4 linked regions of the Homo sapiens genome follow. The protein of the gene in region 1 purifies or fractionates together with the protein of each later gene. This does not show direct contact. Each region holds a gene or a part of one and is shown on either strand. Other genes may lie near its edges. The genes, in order: SELE, MTMR1, DIP2A and DIP2B.

The links.
Region 2: the proteins of SELE (region 1) and MTMR1 purify together in Homo sapiens (affinity purification with mass spectrometry; 2 studies listed by BioGRID and IntAct, with this or other methods). This does not show direct contact.
Region 3: the proteins of SELE (region 1) and DIP2A purify together in Homo sapiens (affinity purification with mass spectrometry; 2 studies listed by BioGRID and IntAct, with this or other methods). This does not show direct contact.
Region 4: the proteins of SELE (region 1) and DIP2B purify together in Homo sapiens (affinity purification with mass spectrometry; 2 studies listed by BioGRID and IntAct, with this or other methods). This does not show direct contact.

What each region holds. Positions count from the first base shown.
Region 1 is NC_000001.11:169,731,072-169,738,754, forward strand, and holds the start of SELE (E-selectin precursor), read right to left. Parts: upstream 3,009-7,683; 5' UTR 2,900-3,008; intron 2,590-2,899; 5' UTR 2,542-2,589; coding exon 2,505-2,541; intron 1,928-2,504; coding exon 1,544-1,927; intron 872-1,543; coding exon 764-871; intron 1-763. UniProt on the Homo sapiens protein: Cell-surface glycoprotein having a role in immunoadhesion. Mediates in the adhesion of blood neutrophils in cytokine-activated endothelium through interaction with SELPLG/PSGL1. May have a role in capillary morphogenesis.
Region 2 is NC_000023.11:150,696,368-150,703,403, forward strand, and holds part of MTMR1 (phosphatidylinositol-3-phosphate phosphatase MTMR1), read left to right. Parts: intron 1-2,827; coding exon 2,828-2,933; intron 2,934-7,036. UniProt on the Homo sapiens protein: Lipid phosphatase that specifically dephosphorylates the D-3 position of phosphatidylinositol 3-phosphate, generating phosphatidylinositol. Could also dephosphorylate phosphatidylinositol 3,5-bisphosphate to produce phosphatidylinositol 5-phosphate.
Region 3 is NC_000021.9:46,552,857-46,559,892, forward strand, and holds part of DIP2A (disco-interacting protein 2 homolog A), read left to right. Parts: intron 1-1,312; coding exon 1,313-1,436; intron 1,437-1,718; coding exon 1,719-1,840; intron 1,841-1,965; coding exon 1,966-2,077; intron 2,078-3,125; coding exon 3,126-3,235; intron 3,236-3,546; coding exon of another isoform or gene 3,547-3,573; exon of another isoform or gene 3,574-3,982; intron 3,983-4,082; coding exon 4,083-4,213; intron 4,214-4,728; coding exon 4,729-4,897; intron 4,898-5,366; coding exon 5,367-5,537; intron 5,538-6,977; coding exon of another isoform or gene 6,978-7,007; intron 7,008-7,036. UniProt on the Homo sapiens protein: Catalyzes the de novo synthesis of acetyl-CoA in vitro. Promotes acetylation of CTTN, possibly by providing the acetyl donor, ensuring correct dendritic spine morphology and synaptic transmission.
Region 4 is NC_000012.12:50,745,963-50,749,171, reverse strand, and holds the end of DIP2B (disco-interacting protein 2 homolog B), read right to left. Parts: 3' UTR 515-3,209; downstream 1-514. UniProt on the Homo sapiens protein: Negatively regulates axonal outgrowth and is essential for normal synaptic transmission. Not required for regulation of axon polarity. Promotes acetylation of alpha-tubulin.

The sequences.
Region 1 (7,683 bases):
TGCACTGTCTACTATAGTAGCCACTATCTGTGTGGCTACTCAAATTTAAACTTGAATTCGTTGAAATCAAATAACATTTAAAATTCAGTTCCTCAGTGTCACCAGCCACATTTCAAGTACTCAATAACCACATGTGGCTCATAGGTACACACTGGAAAACACAGCTATGGAACATTTCCATTATCACAAAAGCTCTACTGCACAACGCTGTGCTAAGGAATCTTGGAGAGAAGCTCATCTAACTCTCTTAATGTACAAATTTAGGAACTGAGACCTCATTTCATTCAAGTGACTTGCTCCATGCTACACGGCTAGTCATTACAGAGCCAGAGGCCAGAGCATGAACCAAGATACCCTGGACTCTGTAACTCACTCATTTCTACTGCAACGTCTTGTTACCACCTAGATGAGGTGAGTACATGTTCCTCGCAGGGACACAGAATTACAGTTTATTGAATGTGTCCTGTGTGCCAGGCACCATGTAACCATGAGCCTATGAAGTTCACACTATTATTATCCTCATTTTACAATGAGAAAACTGACATAGAGAGTTAAACTATCTTGTCAAGGTGCCAAAATAAATAACTGGTGAATCTAGGACTCAAACCCAGCAGGGTCTGACTTCATAGTCTCAGCTCACGATCACCATATGACACCATCTGCACCAGGGAAGGGAAGGCATGCAGACCTGACTCTAATGCCAGCTAGGACGTGAGATGGTGCTACCATCTCAAGTGAAGAAAGAGGCAAGAACCAGACTTACTTTGCTCACACTTGAGTCCACTGAAGCCAGGGTCACACTTGCAAGTGTAATTATTGATGGTCTCTACACATTCACCGTGGCCACTGCAGGATGTATTGGTACAGGCAGCTACGGAAAATACAAAGCATGATGAGGAGGACTATTACTGTGCTTATACTGAGTGCCTTTGATTTTAGAATCAACAGTGTGCAACAGAGACATCAGCAGTCCTACAGAGTGCCATAGACTTTAACTGAAGTGTTTTACAAAGTTCCAAATCTGAGTTTCAGGCCCACCTATCCTAAACCTTGATGCTAATGTATAGCTGTGGCTGGCACCTACCGTAGAAAATTTACTTCTTCACAAACTCTGAAGACAGTTCCCCTACCACAAATAAACAAGTAATTAAAATATGTATTGTGTGTGTGCATTTTTATATGTAAAGAACTACATATTTGCCTACAGTATTTATATATATTTTATATATATACATACACACATATATGTGTGTATATGTGTGTATGTATATATATAAAATGTATATAAATGCTGTAGGCTATATATATATACACACACACATATATGTGTGTGTGTATATATGTGTGTGTGTGTATATATATACATATCCACATATTCTTGCCCACATTCACACAAAACAGCAAAAGAGAGAAACTTTAGCAGTTAAACAGAATCTTTTGGAACATAAAATGACCACAATAGAGAGCAGTTTTTGCATGCTGTAAATTTGCCAAGATGCCCACACACTGAAACTACCTCCCACTGCTGCCGCAAACTCCCTACCTGTGTAGCATAGGGCAAGCTTCTTCTTGCTGCACCTCTCATCATTCCACATGCCCACATCTTTTTCTCTCTTGATGTAGATCTCCACGCAGTCCTCATCTTTTTGCCTATTGTTGGGTTCACCTGGAGCCCAGTTCTTGGCTTCTTCTGTCAGAGGTTTCTGGGTTCCTACCCAGACCCACACATTGTTGACTTTTCTGATTCCAATCCAGTAATAACTTGGTGAATAGCTCAATATGGAGTTTAGGTACTCAATCTCTTCTTTGTTTTGAATTGCAACCAGGTGTGTGTACCTTTGCTGACAATAAGCACTGGCCTCATCATAAGTCATAGCTTCCGTGGAGGTGTTGTAAGACCAGGCTCCACTCTCTTTAATGAGAAGCACTAGTGGGAGAAAAAGAAAAGAAATGGTAGAGTTTGGTACTGTTGTGGTTTAACTCTGACAACTGTGCTTTTTATTGTCTTATTTTTGGCAATGTTTGTGACATGGCCCAGACTTTTCTCATCTTTTCAAAAGTAAGAAGTACGTATGAAGAAACAGCGACTTATTGTTTATCTCTTTTGTGACTGCCACCCACTAGGTACCTTATCCACACTCACTCACAACATTATAGTATACCCATTTTGTAGTAGAATAATAATCAGAATAACTAAGCTTTATTGAGCACTTAGTATGCACCAAGAAGCACTGTATGAGGTACTTTCCATGAACCATGCTATTGAATCCTCACAATGCATCTGGGAAATAGGTCATTATGATCCACACTTTACACTTAAGGAAAGGGAGACACCAAGAGGTAAAGTAAATGACCCCAAGCCCAGGGAAGAACACATTGCAGGTAGAGGTCAAGGATGCTGCCAGATATCCTGTGCAGGACAGCCCCAGACAAGCAAGGATATTTCAGTCTGAAATATCTATAGTGCGAGAATGAGAAATCTTGGTCTAATGGCACTGACTTACCCAAAGTGAGAGCTGAGAGAAACTGTGAAGCAATCATGACTTCAAGAGTTCTTTTCACCCAAAGGTTTAGGCTTGAAATACTTTCCTGGGGAGATAAAACACAAAATGAATTAAAGAAGGAAATCGTGGGTAGCTAGTTACATTATTCTACCATGATGTTTAAGGCAGCATCCTAAGATTTTGGGCAAAGGACACTAGTGCAATAATCTTTATTTCAGAGTTTAATCAAATAAATAAACAAATTTTAAGACTTTCATTATTTAGGTCAAAGAGAAAAGACAGGTTTTAGCTACAATACAATAAGAGCTTGTACAGATGTGGTTTTTATTAGAAGGCCTTTTGCATATCTGTGTTTCATGGCCCGAGGCTGCCCTTATAAAGCGTTCTGCACTTACCGTTTTGGGAAGCAGTTGTTCAAACACAGGATCTCTCAGGTGGGTATCACTGCTGCCTCTGTCTCAGGTCAGTATAGGAGTTTTGATGTGAAGTCAGCCAAGAACAGCTGAACACTACTTCGGCTGAGGCCCTTTTATAGGAGGGATTGCTTCCTGTGAATAATAGGAGGATATTGTCCACATCCAGTAAAGAGGAAATCCCCAATGGCATCCAAAAACTTTCCCGGGAATATCCACGATGCTTAAAATTACAATGATGTCAGAAACTCTGTCTCTTGAAGCTACTTCACCTTTGTCCATGCCTTTATATCGTATATGCAATTTTATTAATATGACAAAAATGCATGATTTTTAATTATAATAACATAAAGTCTATGTCTTTAAAAAGTTGTAAAACTTTGCTTGTTAGTAGTGTCTCTCATGTAGTTGTGGTAGTAATTAGAATTTCAGAAACAGAAGGAAACCAAGAATAGGTTTGTCATCCATAGTCTACTACCTTCAATTTCTCATTCATAGCTGTGGATAACCAATCACTACTCATTTTTTCTTCCTTTTTCACCTGCCAATTCAACATATTTAACATGCACTGTCTCACAGAGGAATGACTCACAAGGTAGATATTAATCTTCAGATTTTGCACGGCAGTTATGCCTAAATTAAAATATTATCTAAAAATAATATCTAACACTCAAATGGTTAAAATAATGCCTTATTTTAAAAAAAGAAAAATGGGAAATAGATATTTACATCTGGGAAAGTTTCATGGTTTGTTCAGTGAAAAAAATAAAAAGGAGGCCAGGCACAGTGGCTCACGCCTGTAATCCCACCACTTTGGGAGGCCGAGGCAGGCGGATCACCTGAGGCCGGGAGTTCAAGACCAGCCTGACCAACATGGAGAAACGCCATCTCTACTAAAAATACAAAATTAGCTGGGCATGGTGGCGCATGCCTGTAATCCCAGCTACTCGGGAGGCTGAGGCAGGAGAATCGCTTGAACCCGGGAAGTGGAGGTTGCAGTGAGCCAAGATCACGCCAGTGCACTCCAGCCTGGGAAACGAGTGAAACTCTGTCTTAAAAAAAAAAAAAAAAAAAGAAAAGAAAAGAAAAAAAATAAAACGGAAAACTATATATATATATTTAATTGGTCAAAATTTTGTTTAAAATTTTTGAAATGTTAATGTGCAAAGAATAAAAATTCTTCCACAATGTTAACAGTGACTAACTCTGGATGGCAGGATTTGGGATAATTTTTATATCCTTCATTATTATTTTCAGGATTTTAAAGTTTTTTTCAATTTCCCTTTTTTTCACCTTTATAGTAACAAGAATACAGTTTAAAGAAACTTGTCTCTAGGCCAGGCATGATGGCTCATGCCTGTAATCCCAGCACTTTGGGAGGCTGAGGTGGGTGGATCACCTGAGGTCAGGAGTTCCAGACCAGCGTGGCCAATATGGTGAAACCCTGTCTCTACTAAAAATACAAAAATTAGCCGGGGTGTAGTGGCGCATGCCTGTAATCCCAGCTACTGGGGAGCCTGATGCAAGAGAATCGCTTGAACCCAGGAGGCAGAGGTTGCAGTGAGCTGAAATCACACCATTGCACTCCAGCCTGGGCGACAGAGCAAGACTCCATCTCAAAAAAAAAGAAAAAAAGAAAAAGAAAAGAAAAGAAATTTGTTTCCAAATGCAACAGAAGGAGATGTATGTGGTATCCTATATTCCTGCTCTTCATTTTGACATTTCTTCTGGGTGATTGTATACATTCCCCATCTCTGCATCTTACCCTATCTAAATGATGGTAACAGTAAATGGGGATCATTTTAATTTCCATATTCTGTAGGTTTTCAGAGCTCAAGTCAAGCTAATATTCTATATCTACAGCCTTTCAAAATAGGAGGTCTATCTAAAAATGTACTGTCAGCAGACCTGAACGAGTAGTGGTAAAAGCCTCGTTTTTCTCTTTACTTGTTAGCACTGGTCTTTCTGTGTTCATAAAGATGTCAAGACCCAAAAAAAAAACAAGAAAAGAGAAGAAAAATTCCAAAAAAGACAACTGATTAGAAAAAAATAACTTAATTAACGAATTTAATTCAACCCCTATCAAAAAGCATAGAATTTATTCCCTCCACCTTACCACTCTCTTACATGATCCAGATACTGACATTATTCCAATTCTTTATCCCACTTTACTTAGCTCAATGTGGTTGTTGCTTCAATAAATTCAGAAGAGTAATCACTCATATAGTGTTTATTTAGATTTTAGGGCAGAATGTCAAGTTGGGTTAATACATTATCTGTATGTATTTTATTTTTAATAAAGTATGAATACATAATCTGCTATTTTTAAAAAGCATGGTCAAATGTATAGAGTAGCCAAATCTTAAAAAACAATTTATCTTCGATATCAATAAAGTACCTAATAATTATATTGCTAATAGAAATTAGTCGTTAACATCCCTAGATAACTAACTTTATTATTGCGAATTTTTCATAACTAAGTTTATAGTTTATCTCTTCCCCTTTTTAAAATTAGTTCAAAGATATCTAAAAATAGCCCCAGTGGTGATGAAGTTTCTATTTTACTTACATATATATGTCCTGGACCCCCAATTATAATCTCTAACATTTATTGAGTGCTTACTATGTGCCAGGCCATATTCTGAGCATTTTGTATGTTCACCTATTGATTATTCAATCCGTACAACAGCCTATGAAATAGGTACTCCTATTATCCCCATTTTACAGATGAGGAAATTGAGAATCTGGGGATTTTATCTCATTCAAAAGCACAGAGCTAAGGGTTGAAACCAGGCAGTTGATATCCAGAGCCCACTCCCTTACCTGCTACTCCAAACCATGATTTCTTTTGTTGTTATGCCCCGAGATTCCTTGTTCTACCCAAGTTTCCTGTACTCTTCTTGCCCTCTTCTTCCTGAGACATCCTTGACCATCACAGCTCTCCACTGAGATAACTGTGTCCTGGGTTCTGAGACATGGGGGCTGGAAGGGACCCCAGGGACAGTGAGCAGTAGGGAGAGGATGCAGTGAGAACAGACCCTGGATCCCCGGTGCATAGGCAGGGAGAAAGTGGACAAAGGAAAAAACAAGCAAGGCAGGTGGAGCCATGCCTAGGTAAAGTTGATCCCTAAGCCACAGTTCCCAGAAGTTCCTGATTCAAAAGCAAATTTTCTCTAAGGTCAAAGGGCAAACTGATTATTCTAAATTCTAAACTGATTATTTCTAAATTGAGAAAGCTTCAGGGAGAGATCCCAATATTCGAAGGATAAGAGAAATGAGGAGTGGAAGAGATAGGTGAGTAACAGTAACTTAAATGTAGACTATATATAATATATAATATATGTAGAGTATATATATATAATTACAATATATTATATATGTGGAATATATATATTATTTATATATATTTATATATTTTATATATATAGATATTTTTATATTTTATATATAAATATAGATATTTTTATATTTTATATATAAATATAGATATTTTTATATATATTATATATAAATATATGTAAAATACTGTGAAAGAAGAATAGAATCTTGAGACCTCAAATTCACTATGCCAAAGGGAAAGTTAAGCTTGGGAAATGAGTCATGCAAAAACTGCCTTCCTTTTGTTCCCAAATACCTGTAATTTCACATGCTTACTTTATCTTATATAAAATGTAGATGTACTGAGCATGAGATCCATGCATAATTTCCCTCTAGTCCCTTCTTTTTACATGTAAAGTGTAGACTCACTGAGTGTTACAGAGCCTTGCCACAATGTAAACACTTGTCTCATTGCCAACCCATCTTTCGTTTATTTTCTTCCCCTCCTGCTTGCTCTTTCCCCTCTAAAGATGGAAGTTCCCAAAACTCTCTTTGGAAAAAGCGCAGGTCACAGATCCTACAGTGATTTGTGTTTCTTTTACCTGGGACAAAATAAACCTCTAATCTGTTGAGATATGCTTCAGTTACTTTTTGGTTTACAATATGTACATGTATGTATATAATTTATATGTATATAATATATGTACTTGTTTTAACCAGAGGTATGTTATTCAAAATCCATTCATCCTTACAATTACCTGCATTCTCCCACAGTATTTTCTGTGTCCCTGCCCCCGAGGTTGTCACTGCAAATCAGGTACATGGATACTGGGAGCTGATGGGCTCCCCTCTGGCTACCTGGGCTGCTGAAGGGGCCATAGACAGACCCAGCTTTCCTCTCGTGGAGAGGCCCTGGGCCAGCGCTGCGTGGGAGTGGGATTACAACCAGACTATAGCTTCTTCACCTGCTTTTTCCTATCAGGATTTCATAAGAGGCAATTGCTTGTTTTTTGAGGGTGGGGGCAAATCAGGGGGAGTTGAAGAGGAAATTGGGTAAGATTTGAATAGTTGGGCATGTTGAATATTATGAATATCATCTCCCTCTTCAAATAATCCAAAATATACCCCCAAGAAACAGGCTGATTAGAGGTGCTTCAAGGCTCCACTGAATCTCCCAAGCTCTGAAGATGTAGCTAGCTGTTACCGGATTGCCGGTTTTCAAGCCTCGCCTCACATGGACCCTCTTGGCAGTTTCTCGCATGGGGGAAGCATCCGCTACATAGATGGGAATGAAAAGAGGAAAGAAGACGGTGCAAACTCAGGCACACCCCGGTGTCTGCCACCAGTGCTATTTAATCTCTGAGGTGTCACCCTTCCTGGCTTTATTGTCTCTTCCTGGAAGTCTCTTGTCCTCTCCTCCACACCCTTTAATCAGGCATCAAAGACTT
Region 2 (7,036 bases), on another chromosome or scaffold:
CTGGGACTATGGGGCCTTCACTTCTCTTCTGAATACTGTAATTAATAATGAGGAAGCTGTGGTCCTGTAAGAGGATGTGTCTTGCCAAAGATCATGGAGTTAGCTGGTGACAGAAGCAGGACTCATGTCCAGGCCTCCTGTCTGCTAACCCACTGTGCTTCACTGTGTGTAACTACATTGGCCAGGATGCTTCTGGTTGCAGGTGACAGAAACCACAGTTCAATCTAGCTTAAGGCAAATGAGATGCCCTGGCTCACAGAACTGCTCCAGACAGGAGGAGAGATGGCCACAGGCACAGTTGAGGTCAGGATTGCAAACAGTGTTGTCGGGACTCCCCATCTCTCTCTCCCTCTCTCTTTTATTTTCCCTCACTTTTTAATCGCTGTGAGTTCCTTAAGATGGTAGGGGTGGGGTGGGGTGGGGAGTGGCCTCCAGCAGCTCTGGATACAGATCCATGTATTTCAGGATCCAAGGGGAAAAGTCTGGGATTGGCTGGTCCTAGGTAACTCACCTACAAGTGGGAGCAGGTGGAGGAAGGGGTCAACCTTCTTCTCCGCTTTCCCCCACAGAAGCCTGTGTTGTGGGGAAGGGCAGTTCCCAAAGTAAAGAGGAAGGTCTTTATCAGAAGAAGGGGGAAGGCATGCCGGGCAGGCAGGTGGTAATAGCAGGTCACACTCATGCTCAGCAGTTGGGTTTCTGCAGTTTCTTCCTGTATTTGCAACTGGTGGGTGCTGACAGAAAAAGGCATTATGACAAGAAAAGTATGATATACGTGGGAATGAAAGTGACTTAACCTTTAAAAAGGAAACAAATCTCTCCCTTTTCTCTCCTTCTCCCCCTCAGGTCGAAATTGTGGTATATAGATTCCTGGCATGTGATAGGAATTTCTGCTCATTCAGTATTTTCAACCATACAGATAACCTCTGGTCTGTTTTGATCAGAGACTGCAATTTGGATCACTAGCACAGAACTTCAGTTTTCTTTCTTTTACTATTTGGGTCATTTTCCATATTGCCTGGGGATTCCAGGTGTTTCTGTCCTTCAGATATGTGAGTGTGGGTTTAATTAGTGATATGATTTTTTTTTTAAAGGCCTGAAACATTCTTTACAGTGAAAGCTACCTGCAAGGTAAACTTTTGTCGGTGTTTTTAGCCCTCTAGCTTGATTTCTTAGTGTTTTGCCAAATTGTGAGAGGAACCCGGCCTCTGGGGGCAATTGTTAAATCTCTTACTGCGCTAGTTGGCTTATGTGGTCTTTCAGGTCAGGTGAGTACAGCCTGACCACTTGCCAGTCGTGTGACCTTGGGCAAAACTGGACCTTAATTTTTTCATCTGTAAAATGGGTCACTGTGAGGCTGGGCAAGGCTACGTGTGTGAAAATGCTTTGATGCCTCAGAGCTCTGTGGGAGTGAAAGATGACATTTTCTTTGCATTGCTGTGTTTTCATGTAAAGCGGTTGGCTCGCATCTGTGCTGCTGGCTTCAGTGCAGTGAGTCAGTCGCTATTGGTTGTTCCATGTCCTGTTGAGGACAGCCACTTTCTCACAGGGCATGTCACCTCTGTGCCTCGATTTTCTCTCCTCAAAGACAAGTCGGCTAGTCCCTGTTCTGCCTTCTCATCACACCATGGTTGTGAGGCTCTGATATAATAAAAACCATTTGTGCTTGTAATCCCAGCACTTTGGGAGGCCAAGGCGGGTGGATCACCTGAGGTCAGGAGTTCAAGACCAGCCTGGCCAACATGGTGAAAACCCGTCTCTACTAAAAATACAAAAATTAGCCAGGCATGGTGGCATGCGCCTAAATAATCCTAGCTACTAGGGAGGCTGAGGCAGGAGAATTGCTTGAACCCAGAAGGGCAAAGTTTGCAGTGAGCCGAGATCGCGCCACTGCACTCCAGCCTGGGTGACAGAGCAAGACTCTGTCTCAAAAAAAAAAATAAATAAAAAATAAAAACCATTTGTAAGTTGTCAAAGCACTTATAGAAGTGTAAGGTATTGTTAGTACTACACAGAGAACATCATTTTTCTAGGCTGTAATTTATAAATCTCATGTTCAGCTTTACTTTTCTGAGTCACTTTGCTTCACTCAAAAGTACACTATTTTCTAGATTTAAAACTACCAACATGAAATTGATTGAATGTTTGAAAAGCCTATGCTGTAAGATAAATATTTCACATATTTCTCCCGGCTGGGTGTGGTGGCTCATGCCTGTAATCCTAGCACTTTGGGAGGCTAAGGCGGGTGGGTCACTCGAGCCCAGGAATTCGAGACTAGCCTGGGAAACATGGCAAAACCCTGTCTACACGCGCGCGCACACACACACACACACACACACACACACACACACACACACACACAAAAGCCGGGCCTGGTGGCATGTGCCTGTAGTCCCAGCTACATAGGAGGCTGAGGTGGGAGGATCACTTGAACCTGGGAGGTTGCAGTGAGCTGAGATTGCACCACTGCACTCCAGCCTGGGTGACAGAGTGAGACCCCATCTCACAAAAAAAAAAAGAAGTATTTCTTCCATATAATTTTAATAGAGTAAAATTCCATTAAATGGTAGAGAATAGTAAGCTTAACTAACACCTAGAATCTTCAACTTTGTTTGAGAAAATTGGGTGATTCATTTAAAATTAACCTGGAATCTAATCTTATTTCCTAGTTGTCAGTCGCTATTTCAGTTCTTACATAAAATGTGAAGGTAACCAAAGAGTCTAGTTAGTTCATCTAAAAAAAGAAGTGTTATCATATTCCTATTCAGTGCTAATTTTTTCACTGAGATCCTATGATATAACGTTTTGTAATCCATGCTATTTTTTTTAGTCCCACAGGATCACATGTTGAATGGTGTAAACAGCTTATAGCTGCTACAATTTCTAGTCAGATTTCAGGTTCAGTGACATCAGAAAATGTGTCCAGAGATTACAAGGTAAGCAACATTGAGTGTTTAATTCATTTTCAGTATGCTAAGTAGCCAAGAAGCTTTGCAGTTTTAATTCAAGTGAGCTGTTGGCCTTTTGATGCAACATGGCCATTTGCTCGAGAATAAGGATGAAAGGTTCTCTGTTGTTAGATCTGAAATGTAGAAGAGAAATTTTACCAGTATCCAGTACATGTAGTCATAGTTTTGTAATTGAAAGGAGAAGCTGTCTTTAGATGACAATGATTCTTTTAAAAATCAAGTTCCATTTTATAATAATAAATGCATATAGCTTCTTTGTTAGTATTGTGAGTTTCAGGAAATATCTTGATGTACAATACTTCCCTAACTTCACAATTTTTTAATTTATGTATTATCTGTGAGTATTCAGCATTAACATGTGATACTAGAATGTATAAAAACCCTTCCAGAATCTCAAAAGAGTATTGTATGGGCAGCCTCATTTTTCAGTCCTTACTGAAGTGAAAATCTCTTTTTGTTCATTTTAAAAGTTAGATTCCCTGCTTATTCTAAATTTAAGTGATAAGCTCCTTGTCAGCAGAGACTAGGGCAGTTTTACCACTGGCTTCCCAGGCACAATCCTGGAGCATAACAGTTGCTCAATAAATATTGAATCAATTAACAAATCAAAAAAATCGCTTGTTCCATCTTTGTTAAGGCTAAAGACTAACTTTGTTTTAATGTCAATAAACTATTAATAGGTATATTAAATGAAATCACATTTATATTTCAGTACTGATGTTTGCCTAAGTTGAGGTTTCTGTTTATTAGTGGTCATTTTTCCTGCTAGTAAGAGATGATTGATTTTTCACAAGTGTGTGTAAAATGCATTTGGTATCCCAGACTACCATTAGTTAATAGTCTCTCAATATCATGGTCCTTGCCAGACATCAAATCTTACAAATATCAAGAATTACAGTAAAGATCCTAATTAATTCTTAATAGGTACTCCTTGTTTAGGAGCTTTATCTTCAGTTCCTCTTTAGAGCTCATAGGGTAATAACAAGTGCAGAAACAGGCTCAGGAGGCCAATTAATTGAGATTTGGCTATGGTGCTGTCTCTTGCCTCATCCAAACTGGCAGATGCTGTTGATTATGCCTACCAAAGGAAGGCATAGCTGTGGATTAGCAGAAATTGGATAATCTGCCCAGCTAGAAGAGTGACAGTGTATTTCTTAATCATTTTTCCTGCTATGTGGTGTTCATGTTTGCCCATAAAAGAGCAGCTGGGGCTCCTGGACCTTAAAACCTGGTCGGGCAAACACACTGTCTCCAGGTGGGAGAAGCATTTGCTGCATCACTGATGCGTGAATGGCTGGTCACTGAGCAGCTGCGGATCGCATCAGTTCCAGTTGCCCTATTGCCTGCACCTTAGCTGAGAAACTGCCCGCTGAGTAGAGAGACTTAAGAACCCATTTTAGCAGAGAATAGCTCTCACACTTCGGGGTGATTTTCTTTATGGACAATTATGAGTTAACTGTAATGTTTTCATTAAGGTTGAATAGTTGTTAGTGTTGTGTGTGTCCTATAAAAGATTGAATGTCGACTGTGTGCATAGCTTTCTAACATTGCATGAATAGATCAGACTGAATCTGTACTTTAACATGAAGCAACTAAGTTTTTTCAATCTCAGTCTATTTACAAATTTTGTGTAGCTGAATTAGCTCATGTTGGAATGGTTGAACAGATGGTATTCAGAAAAAATAAGGCTTTCTTTCTTTTGGAAATTAAATTTTAAGTTCCTACATCAGATCATAGCTAAAGTCTTTGATGAATTATTGTAAGGGGGCATGTTTTATAATTGTCTTTGTTATATTTGCCCTGCAGCCAAATCTGAAAAGTTGGTGTTAAATTTATAACTCAGGGGTTGTTACACTTTCTTCAAGGAGAGTTTTTTTTTTTACATAATAAATACATAAAATATTTCTAAACCACAAGGATAATTGTACATGTTCCCTATAAAGTAGTTCTTAAAATCAGGGTAACCAAAATGGGCCTTTGGGACCCCTCTGGCATGGGAGCTATTGCATGGGGTTGACCCTGAAGAGCCAGATAAAGTTCCTTGAGGATTTAAGTTGCAGTCATCAGCTGATATTTGAAATTATCTGTTGTGTAAATGTCTTATTTGAAATACACACTTAATTTGGGGGCTAATTTATTATAGATTAAACTCAACATCAGTAATTAAATGGGAGCAGATGTTTATGTGGAGCAGAATGCTTGGCATCTTATTTGAAATGCTGATTGTCTTCTGAGTTGTAACAGGCTGTCGAGAATGGTTCTATGTCATCATCATCATCATCATCATCAACCCTCTAACACATACAGGCTCTGGGGTTTTGTAATGCTTTTTGACATGTCATCCATTTAAGCCTTAAAACAACCTAGTGAATCTGGGTGTGGTGGTCTGTAGTCTCAGCTACTTGGAAGGCTAAGATGGGAGGATCACTTGAGTCCAGGAGTTCAAGGCTGCAGTGTGCTGTGGTCACACTTGTGAAAAGCCAATGCACTCTAGCCTAGACAACATAGAGAGATCTTGCTTCTTTAAAAAAGTCCATTGAGGTAGCTATTACTACAATCATCATTTAATGGATGAGGAAACCGAGGCCTAGAGAGATGAAATGACTTGCTTAGGGTCATACAGTTAGACTTGGGATTTGAACTCAAGTCATCCTATTGAAAAGCTAGAGTGATTTTAAGATTTTGTCCCACCCCCATTCCCATCCACTGCTTTTCGATCTTTTTTTTTCTTCTTTTTCTTCTTCTTCTTTCTTTCTTTTTTTTTTTTTTATAGAGATGGGGTCTTACTACGTTTCCCAGGCTGGTCTTGAACTCCTGGGCTCGAGCGATCCTCCCATCTCGGCCTCCCAAAATGCTGGGATTAGAGGTGTGAGCCACCATACCCAGCCTCATCCACTGTTTTTCAAAATGTGACCCTTGGGTCTTCCCAAGACAGCATTCTCTGGAGCACCTGTAAAAATGCAGCTTCCCGGGCTCCATCCCAGATTTACTGAATCAGAGTGTCTGAGGGAGGGAAACAAGTGTCTCATATATTTCTTATGCATGATAAAATCTGAAAACCTAGGCTTCCTGAGTTTCTGTCTGTTGAAATTGGTGATGGGACCCTGCATTTCTGGTATATTACTAAGAATCTGAATAATTAGCAACTCAGATATTGGAGAATAATTATTTTATTATTTACTCATATCATAAATTGTCAGTCAGCCCAGGGTCAGCTCATCTAAAGTACAGTAAGAATATCGCTGGTATCACGTGACATGAGTTTAGATGGTATGTCCATGGACGTATTTTAGTAGCTATGTAATTATTTTCTTGTGTATTAGAAAAATCAGCACATCAGGCTTGTGATTTAGTAGATGTTATGGCTTAGAGCAGGCAAAGTATTAAAAAGGAATGGATTTTAAATCAATATAAAGATAAATACAAAATTAGTATGGGCAGTTGGCAGATACAGCAAGCCAAACTTGTTGAGGTGGTATGTGAAATGGCAAGTTTGGCAAGCATTGTCCCAGCTGAAAGAGTAGATAGCTATTATACTGAATTGTGTGGCAGCTAAATTAATAAATGCCTGATTTAATACCGAGTCATCCTGAAGATTGGCCTGTTAATTAAGACTATTACACAAAATGTAATAAAATATTTGTTTTGCTTGTCCCCCCTCCACTACCAACTCAATTGCTTTCATTTTTACTAGGCTAACAAATGGTAAAAAATTTCTCTTGAATTTGCCAGAAATTTTAAGAACAAAATTTGAATGTAATCTTCTGTAGATTAGATGAAATAATACAGTTACAAATGGAAACATTTTTAGGAACTATTAGTAGAAGTGACATCATTGATCACAGCTTCCATTGTTTGGAAAGTAGGACTAGGTTATGAAAAGAGAACATGATGGAGTAGTACAAACAATATTGGTTAGCTTGTGACCTTGTATAGTCTCTGAGGCTCAGTTTCCTTTTCTGGAAGGATAAAGGGGCTTGGATTAGATTATTCACCTCTAAATGCCTTTCTTGCTAGAACATTATTCAATTGTGTTCAAAAGAATTTGATCTGGGCCAGCTTTATGAAAA
Region 3 (7,036 bases), on another chromosome or scaffold:
CAGTGATTTATCATTGACCAAGGTAAAATCAGCTTATGGTGTGAACCTCAGTATCAATACAGTGGAGTGATGTAACCTGGAGTGCTGGGGAGGGGGCTTTGAATGGAACTGGGTAGCAGGGGCTATGAAGAATGATGCCCAGTGGCTCAAGGCAGGAAAGGAGGCCAGTGTGGTGGGGGCCAGGTGGTCCCAGGTAGGGGATGCAGATAAGGCTGGGGGTCGCTGGGTTTTCCCTAAGGATGCAGTGGGATCCCAGACCTTGCGGGCTTTGAGTCCCAGTCCAGATCTCAGGTTCTGTCCTGATGGGGCCCTGACTCATATGGACTGGCAAAGCTTCCGGGATTTGGAATCTCAGGATCTGCCCAGCCCTTGTGCCTGGACACAGCACATAAGTGCGTCCACTGGTCTCTCTCTTCCACTGCCTTCTGTCAGTAGAAGCCACCAATCGAGAAACAGGGAGTTTTGATGTTACACTGGTCTGCTCTGGAGTTTTATATTTATTAGACTGAATTGCACTTTTTATCTTCTTAAGAAGGACTAAAAAAGCTGCGAGGCCTGGCAGGGGATCAGGGAGGATGAGTGTCCTGAGCAGAGAGGTAGGGTTACCAGGTATTTCTGTTTGCCTTGAACTGGTCACATAGCCCCAGTGCCCCTCAGCAGAGAGACAGGGTGAATGAAGGAGCTGGTGTAGTCAGTCCTAGAGGAGACACACAGATGCCTCTGAGAAAGCCGGTTGCAGATGACACACGCCCAGGCTCAGTGCAGGTGACCTGTGGGCATGGAAAGTAGTACAATTCAGGGATGTTTGCTTATCGCTTATTATGTATTTATAATGGTGTCGTATGGAATATTTTATTGAAAAGGCCAGAAAGGTCTTCTTTACCCACGTGTTTCTGGCTCTGCCCTGGGTGAATGGAGTGCCCGCATCTCTCCCTCTTAGCTGGGACCACACAGGAGATACTTGCATGCCTGTCCCTTCACTGCTAGTGAGAGAGTACAGATGGTGAGAAAAGACACCAGTCGTGGACCATGTGCGGTGGCTTATGCCTGTAATCCCAGCACTTTGAGAGGCTGAGGCGGGCAGATCACTTGAGGTCAGGAGTTCGAGACCAGCCTGGCCAACATGGTGAAACCCCATCTCTACCAAAAAAAAGACACCAGCCGTACGTCTAGGACTGACACATTGTCATTATCATGGACGCTAATCACAAGGTGTCGTGTGCAGTGGCGTGCAGGTGGTGTGCACGCAGATCTGCGAACAGCCCACCTGCACGCACCAGCATACAGATGAGCTCAAAGATCGCTTTCCTAGGGCACCGTCACAAGCACTGCAACCTGTGTCCAGCTGCACAAAAGGGCTGAGAGAGTGGCCGCGGCTCTGATGGAGAAGGGAAGACTGAGTGTTGGGGACCATGTGGCTCTGGTCTACCCACCAGGTGGGCTCACTGTGGGGCTGTCCACCTGCAGCTCTTTGTAAGCAGCCTCCTATCCTAAGCAGCCCCCTAGACACTCCCTCCCCGAAGCATCTTCCAAAACTAAGCTCAGCCCCTCCTCTCTGCATGTGTCTGCCTCCTCAGCTCAGCTACCCCTGTGGAAACCCAGGAGTCACCCATGCCCCCCCAGCACCACCTCCCCTCCTCTCTCGCAGGAACAGTGAACAGAGGCTGGTGGGAGCCTCTTGCGGCCGGCCTCCTCACAGCCAGTCCTTGTCTCCACAGGGGTGGACCTCATTGCCGCGTTCTATGGCTGCTTGTACTGTGGCTGCGTGCCTGTCACCGTGCGGCCCCCGCACCCTCAGAACCTCGGCACCACACTGCCCACCGTCAAGATGATCGTGGAGGTGCGCCTACCTGGCCCGCGGGTCAGAGTCTGTGAGTGGGAGGCTGCAAGGCTGCCCTCCGCTGCCCCCTTTTCTGGGCAGCTTGAGAGGCCCCGCCCACCCACCCTTGGCCCCTCGCCATGCAGGTCAGCAAGTCTGCATGCGTCCTCACCACGCAGGCTGTCACACGGCTGCTCAGGTCCAAGGAGGCTGCTGCTGCCGTGGACATCAGGACCTGGCCCACCATCCTAGACACAGGTGCGTGTCCTCGCACTGCCCAGGACCAGTCCCTTTTCCTTTCTTTGTTGTAGGTGTGGTGTGGCCTGGCTGCCGTCCAAAAACACACGTGAGGCAAGAGCAGTCCTGGCAGGAGCCTGGCTGACAGCAGGGGGTGCCCCGGGCCCTGGTGGGGAGTAGGGGTCCCTGTCCCATGTGTAAACCCACGCTCCACTCAGCCCACAGCAGCCGCACCCAGTCCCAAGTGGTGTGGAGCACAGCCTTGCCCCTCTCACCCGCCTCCTACTGGCATGGGGGCTGGCAGCTCTCTGAGGCTTTCTGCAAACGCTTTGAGGACACAGCTCCCACCGCATGCCGCCACTCCAGCATCCCTGTCCCCATCATTGGTGAATGCTGTCATGCCCCATGAAATGCTGAGGGCCAACAGGGTGAGGGTCAGAAACCCCCCTGGCTCCCCTCTGCCGTGGACCTGTCTCAGCCTGGGCTGGATGGGGCTGGGCCAGGGCAGCTGGTGTAGGGGAGGGCAGGCTCAGAGCCAAACAGCTGGCCAGGGCCCCAAAGCCTCACGGGCTTGCCTCAAGGGGAGCGGTGCCTGCCCTGCTGAGCCTGTGTCCAGTTGCACCCAGGGAGGCAGTGGTGTCTGGCTCATGGGGCCACGAGAACTTGATGAAGCACGCAGAACCCAGAGCCCGTCCACAGCTATTCTTGCTGTGGTCGGGACTCGGCTCATCTGGGCTTTGCCATAGGCTCTGTGACTTTTGGCAAATCCCTAGTCCTCTAATCTTTCCTACTGGTCAGTGACGTGATGCCTCCCCTCTTCGCCCTGCCTCGTCCCCCATCCCCACAGGCTCAGTGTGGTCTTGGTGGGACCGGGTAGCGTTTCCATGAAGAATGAAATACGCTTTCCTGAGCACGCACAGCCTGCATCGTCACGGCCCCACTCCCGTCTGAGCTCACTCTCTGCAGGACTCCCAAGGACAAATCATGTGTCGCCTCTTGCCTGTGAAAGCCCAGAGCGTTCAGAATACATGTGGGAACACTAATGTTGCTGGTGTCTCCTGTTTAACAGATGACATCCCAAAAAAGAAGATAGCAAGCGTTTTCAGGCCCCCCTCCCCCGATGTCCTCGCATACTTGGACTTCAGCGTGTCAACCACTGGGATATTAGCGGGAGTGAAGGTAGGTCCTCTGAAATCTTGTTTGCTTCAGCCCCTAGAAATCAGGAGGAGTGGACAGAAAGGATGTCAGATGCAGATTTAAACTGACAGGTCCTTCTTATGCAAAGCACAAAGCAACAATTTTGCTTCTTAAGATTTGTGTTAAATACCAATAAATGCTAAGATGTGATTAGCCTGAGAGTAATGCGTTTTCTGATGCATTATGGTTATGTCTAAACTTTCTGATTTATGACTGTCTAGCTTACAGGAACTGGTGGCTTTGAAGAATCTCTTACCTTGCTGGGAGTCAATAGCTCAATTAAAATTTTTCAGGCGGGGCGTGGTGGCTCACGCCTGTAATCCCAGCACTTCGGGAGGCCGAGGCGGGTGGATCACAAGATCAAGAGATGGAGACCATCCTGGCCAACGTGGTGAAACCCCGTCTCTACTAAAAATACAAAAAATTAGCTGGGCATGGTGGCAGGTGCCTCTAATCCCAGATACTCAGGAGGCTGAGGCAGGAGAATTGCTTGAACCCGGGAGGCAGAGGTTGCAGTGAGCCGAGATTGTGCCATTGCACTCCAGCCTGGGCGACAGAGCAAGACTCTGCCTCAAAAAAAAAAAAAAGAAAAAAATTTTAAAAATTCATTACCCTGAAATTTTGTTTCAAAGATTTTTAGTGTACCATTTCTTGGGTATTATTTAGGTTATATGGGGATTTGAGCCAACCGTCTTTTAAGGAAATAAATATGATGTTTGGTAGTTCGGAGCTATGGTCTAGCCATGTGAACAGCGGACACTGCCATCCACCCTCTCCCCTCCTGAATTTCATTTCACTTTTTTTTTTTGAACTTTATTTTACTCTTAAGATGTCGCACGCGGCCACAAGCGCCTTATGCCGCTCCATAAAGCTGCAGTGTGAGCTGTACCCCTCGCGGCAGATCGCCATCTGCCTCGACCCCTACTGTGGCCTTGGTTTTGCCCTGTGGTGTCTGTGCAGGTGAGTGCAGGGCCCCTGCTGCCTGCCAGGTGGGAGCAGCTCGTGTGGCTCTTAGGAACCTTGGCCTTCTAAGGCACCTTTTCTGGGTGCTCAGGAAGCCGATGAGATGTGTGTGAGTGGGTTTGTTTGGGGATGAAGTGGGTTGGAGTCTGAGTCTGAAATTGAGTGAAAATACATTTTTCATTAAATACACTGTCCGTTATCAGTACTTGGGAAGAATCTGCTTGATTCCTTCAAACACTAGAAAGTGGCGATCCGTCTCTAGAAGTGAATGCCTCTGGAGTGGTGTCCCCGGATCCTCTCCAAGTGTTCGGAGCAGAGCTCAGAACCCCGTGCCTGCCATCCCCCAACCTTCACCCTGTGGCATGTTTTCCACCAAACCCCCCCACTTGGCGTCAGAACAGAAATCATGCCCCTGTTGTGGCTGGAAAAGAAGTGTTCTTGAGGAAGGGAAGAGTGGAGTGCCCAGGGTGCTGGGTGGGCGGGCGGAGCCTCACGAGCCTTCCCTCTCGCAGTGTCTACTCGGGACACCAATCAGTGCTGGTGCCCCCGCTGGAGCTGGAGAGCAACGTGTCCCTGTGGCTGTCGGCCGTCAGCCAGTACAAGGCCCGCGTCACCTTCTGCTCCTACTCTGTGATGGAGATGTGCACCAAGGGCCTAGGCGCACAGACGGGTGTCCTCAGGGTGAGTGCCCAGACCCGGGCTTCTGAGTGTGCTGCAGACCACAGCCCTGGGAAGTTTAAAAACAACAAAACAAAACAAGACTCCCAAGGCCCCTCCCTGCAGTTGGAGGAAGTAGAGAAAACCCTTTCCCACTAGGGGCCCTATGTACACATCTGTCCTCCCACGGCCCACCTGTCTCTGCAGCTCCACACCCCGCAGGAGAGGAGGGTGGGGGGTAGGGCAGGGTCCCTGCGAGATAGCGGGGTGGAAGTCTGGCCGCGTGGGAGGGCAGGTGTGGGATGCAGGTCAGATGGGAATCGTTTAGCGCATCCACACGTAGGATTCTGTGGAACAGACACAGCCTGCGGAGAGGAGGTTGGTGTCCAGCTCCACCTCTGTGTGCCCACCCGGAGATTTCCCAAAACAGTGCCCAGGGCCCTGGCAACTCACTGAGCTGTGGCCGTGGCCTGACCGCTCACCCCTCCCGCAGATGAAGGGGGTGAACCTGTCATGTGTGCGCACGTGCATGGTGGTCGCCGAGGAGCGGCCCAGGATTGCGCTGACCCAGTCCTTCTCCAAGCTCTTCAAGGACCTGGGCCTGCCGGCCCGCGCCGTAAGCACCACGTTCGGGTGCAGGGTCAACGTGGCCATCTGCCTCCAGGTGAGGTGCCTGGGGCTGCGGTTCTCGAAAGCTGGCTGTTGGCAGCATGGAGACCCAGTTTCCCAGTTGTTAATGTGCCGTTTTGTAGCCGCCTGATCTATTTCTCCTTCTCTGGGCCTTTGATATCTCATTTCCATGTAACATTTTAGCTTCAAGGGTTTTATTTTTAAAGATGTTCTATTCTAGTTGGAGAAAGGCTTATTTGGAAAAAAAACACATTGTTTTTGAACAGTGACTAATAACTGTAAGACTCTCTAAGTTAGATATAAAACACAGCTAAGTTCTTAAAGCAAGATTGAACTTACTGTTTTAAGATATCTAGCAATATTAAATTGAAACATTAATAAATGTGGTAATTTGTGTTGACTCAAATTCATTTCTGAAACCATGAAATGTCTTATTAAAAGGAAGCACCAAGTTTCAGGCCAGGAGTGGTGGCTCATGCCTATAATCCCAGCACTTTGGGAGGCTGAGGCAGGCGGATTACCTGAGGTCAGGAATTCGAGACCAGCCTGGACAATATGATGAGACCCCGTCTCTACTAAAAATACAAAAATTAGCTGGCTGGTGGTGCGCGCCTGTTGTCCCGGCTACTTGGGAGGTTGAGGCACAAGAATCGCTTGAACCTGGCAAGAGGAGGTTGCAGCGAGCCAAGATCTCACCACTGCACTCCAGCCTGGGTGACAGAGCGAGACCCTGTCTCAAAAAAAAAAAAAAAAAAAAAAAAAAAACATAGGTAGCACCAAGTTTCAGAGATTGAAGAGCTCACGGCAGTTCTGTTTATTGCTTCCTCAGATAGCTACAGCTGTTGCCCAGATTTTGTACTAGTATCTCAATTTCATTTCTTTCTAAAAACATCTTAAAACCAAATGGCTTTTTAGATAACCCTACATATTGAACGCCTTATTCACCCACATAGTACAAGAATAGCTGGAAGGAAATGGCACCTGTCCGTGCCAGAGCAGGGCTGAGTGCAGGTCTGTCTCTGTTTCCAAAGTGTTTGCTTGGCCTTGTGCCTCCCCATCACAGTGGCAGTGCACGCAGGGCAGGGCGGGGGCTCTGCTCACACCCTCTTCACCACAAAAAGACCCCTGACCACTCAAGCCTCAGACCCTTGTCACGCAGCAGAGGAGATCGGGCGGGAGCCTTTTGTGAGCTCGCTTCCTGTGTAGGCTGTGGCTGAGCGTGGGTGCCGGCCTTTGTGTTAGCGGCTCTGCGTCTGCAAGCCTGGGGCCTCCTTGCTAGACGTCGGAAGGGTATGGATGCCACACATGATTGCAGAAATGATGTTAATGGGATGTTCACGTTTGCTCTTTAAGATACAGAGGTGGGTTTTGCTCTCTCTTTCCCTGTGTTTCTCATGTGGCTGCTGCTTCTGTGTGTGTTTCCTGTGGCTGTCTCCTCCCTGTCTCACTCTGCTGCCTCCTTGGCCTCTGTCAGCCCAACAGGCTGGGAAAGCTGGCTGAGCAGGTATGACCTTGACCTTGACCTTGTTGGTG
Region 4 (3,209 bases), on another chromosome or scaffold:
GCTGAGAAGGGCAGATCACTTGAGGTCAGGAGTTTGAGACCAGCCTGGCCAACATGATGAAACCCTGTCTCTACTAAAAATATAAAAATTAGCTAGGCATGTTGGCGCATGCCTGTAATCTCAGCTACTGGGGATTACTTTGGGAGAATCGCTTGAACCCAGGAGGCGGAGGCTGCAGTGAGCTGAGATTGTGCCACTGCACTCCAGCCTGGGTGACAGAGTGAGACTCTGTCTCAAAAAATTAAAAAAGAAAATACAACTACCAAATGCTACATGAGTGGGAGGAAGACTAAACTATAATTATTACCTTGAAGAGTCCTGACAACAGGCTCCTTAGTTTTCAAAGTGACACCCTGATTCCCTGACCTAGTATCCTTTAATAGCACTGACTCTGGATCTCTGTGTTCACTTTCCTTAGACTACCCCAGCTATCACTGGGTCTTACCATCTAAAGTTAAATTTAAAATCTATCAATTCCCTAGCCTCCACCCAATGTGTGAAGGATTAAACAGAATCAGGCATCAATATTTATTAACACAAGACAAAGGAAACACATTCAATGAGTTAATAGAACACTGTCCAGCCAGATGTTAAATTTAAAAACGTATATCTAGTCTAACTTCAAATAAATAAAAAAACTTTATACATAATTACACAGTACTGTAGTTTGAATTTGACACGGGTAAATATCTTGACAGAAAGTAAACAAAACAGCATTTAGGACTAAAAAATTATTCTTATATCTTTAGTCTCTTCCTCTGGACAAGTAACATGGCCCAACTACATACACCTAAACCAGAAATGTCGTATGAATGATAAAGAAAAGGCCTATTGTGTATTTGGCGCATTGCAGCTTCTTGCTCCAAATACTCTTGCTTTTACATCAAAGCAGACAACAAAAACAACACTAAGGCATAGATCTTGTTGGAGTTTGAGGATGAGGTGATAACTCCTCATTGCTTTAGACTAAAAGATTCCTGGATATTCAAGGAAAGTAATTTATTTGGCCAAGATATAGAGCACCATGCCTGGGGCAGAGACCTTAATAGAAAACCTAAGGCCTCGGGCCCTTGTTGAGTCAACAAAAGCATTAAGCAAGGATTGCCCAGGGACTAAAGTAAGGAGACAGACTCATGTGACCAAGACAGGCAATGGTCCCTAAACAGCCTGAGGCAACACAACTTCATGAGGAAAGGACTTGGTACTGGGGAGACCTGGCCCTTTATGAGGCAGGAAGTAAAGACTGTGGATTCACTGACACTGATTAGCATGCTGGTCCTTCCCAGGGTCTCACTGAATTCCTAGGATCTAGGAATTTTCCTGAGGCAGCCCCTTCCTGATCTACTTCAGTTACTTCTGCTGAGAACCAGAAAGAGGTTCAGAAACCTTCAGACCAATAGATTTCTCTTAACTGAGACAGAGACTTGTTTAGTTTTTTTCCACAGACATTAAAAACCCAGACAGAATATGTTCCAGAGGATTGGAAAGGCTGTGTTTCTATTAGTAATGGCCTTTCAGGCCTGCCTTAAGAATCAGTTCTACCACAAAAGTGCTACTTAATGTGGATAGAGTAGGAGCACTGTGTCATCAAGAGAACATTTTCTTACTCGAGTCTGTGGCAGAGTAGGCTTTAAATCTGCAGGTGATCCCACAAACACCATCTAAGCAAATGACTGGGCTCTCCTCTCCCTCCACAGGATGCTTTACCAGAGTTACTGATGAAGTTCCTCAAGGACAGTTCTTAGCCTTCCTTCCTCCATGAGCAGATTCTGGCTTTGGGGGACATGCAAAAGATCAATAAAGCAGAAAGCAAAAAATAAATTAGAGGCCTGAGGAACTACAAAACTAGATAATCAGCCTCTAAGTAAATGGGAGTTGGCCACACTTTGAGATTAACAGAGTAATGTATTTGAAGGAATGAGTATAGATCTGCACTGTCTAATATGGTAGCCACTAGTCACATTTGGCTACAAAGACTTGAAATATGGTGATGGTTTGAATTGAGATGTGTTTAATACACACTGAATTTCAAAGGCCTAATATGAAAAAAAGTAAAATAACTCATTAATAATTTTTATATTGATCCTATGTTGAAATGATAGTGTTTTTGAGCTATTGGGTTAAATAAAATATATTTAAATCAATACCATGGGTTTCTTTTTACTTTTAAAAAAATGTGGTTACTAGAAACATTTAAATTACAGATGTGGCTCTCATTATAGTATTTACAGTGGACAGTGCATCTCTAGATGCCTATACCCTAATCTGTGTTAGTAAGAATTATCAAAGCAACCCACAGAATAGCATCTAACCATAACTTTTAGAACTTGGGGATTATAGAGCTAGACTTATTTATATCAGCTTCAGGATCCCCTGCTTTGTTTAGTGGATCATTAAAAATAGTTTTAAGAAAATTAAGTATCAGGCTGTGTTCTCTGCAAACCAAACCATTGCTAGACACTGGGATTTCCTGTGTGCCCCAATGTAAGTGCTTTTTTTCTATCCATCCTAGGACTTCCCTCATTACGTGTAAATTAATTCCATGAAAATGCTGAAAAAGAGATCTGGAACTGGCAAATGTCCTGAGCTCTGCCCTCTGTGGAGGAGTGGGGAGGAAAAGAGGATTACATGAAGGGAGTCACAAAGTGGCTTTTAGTCACATCACAAGACCGTGTAATGGCAGCCCTAGAGCACTGCCACCGCAAAGGAGCTGGTCTTTGCATTATAAACCTTATTTTCAGGGTAATTACAAGTCTTAAAAATTGTTTAAAAACATACTTAGTTTACATGATGTTACAGTGGGGTAAATAATATGTATTATTAAAATAGTCTAAATAAATATTTACACAATAGACCAGAGTGGGTCAAAGAGAACCATTCTGCTTTGACAAGTTAACTCTTCTCACTTTTGAGTACTTTTTCATTTTTAAAAATATTTCTGTTAAGAAAAAAATAATACGATTTAACTATATTCAAATACATGAAGTATCAGACCAAAGAAAGGAAACCGAGCCAGAGGCCAAACTCAGTCTCATCTCATTCTACTTGGCCTGGGCACCAAAGTTATTTCAAAAGAGTTTCCTGCATATGTCAGACTTCCCCGGTTTCAGCATAAGCCTGGCTGCTTTGGCAACCCAGATTGGTCAGTTTTGTGTAGTTATATGGCCTTACAGTTCCATGTGATGGTGGATCCCCACTGCCTTCCTGGC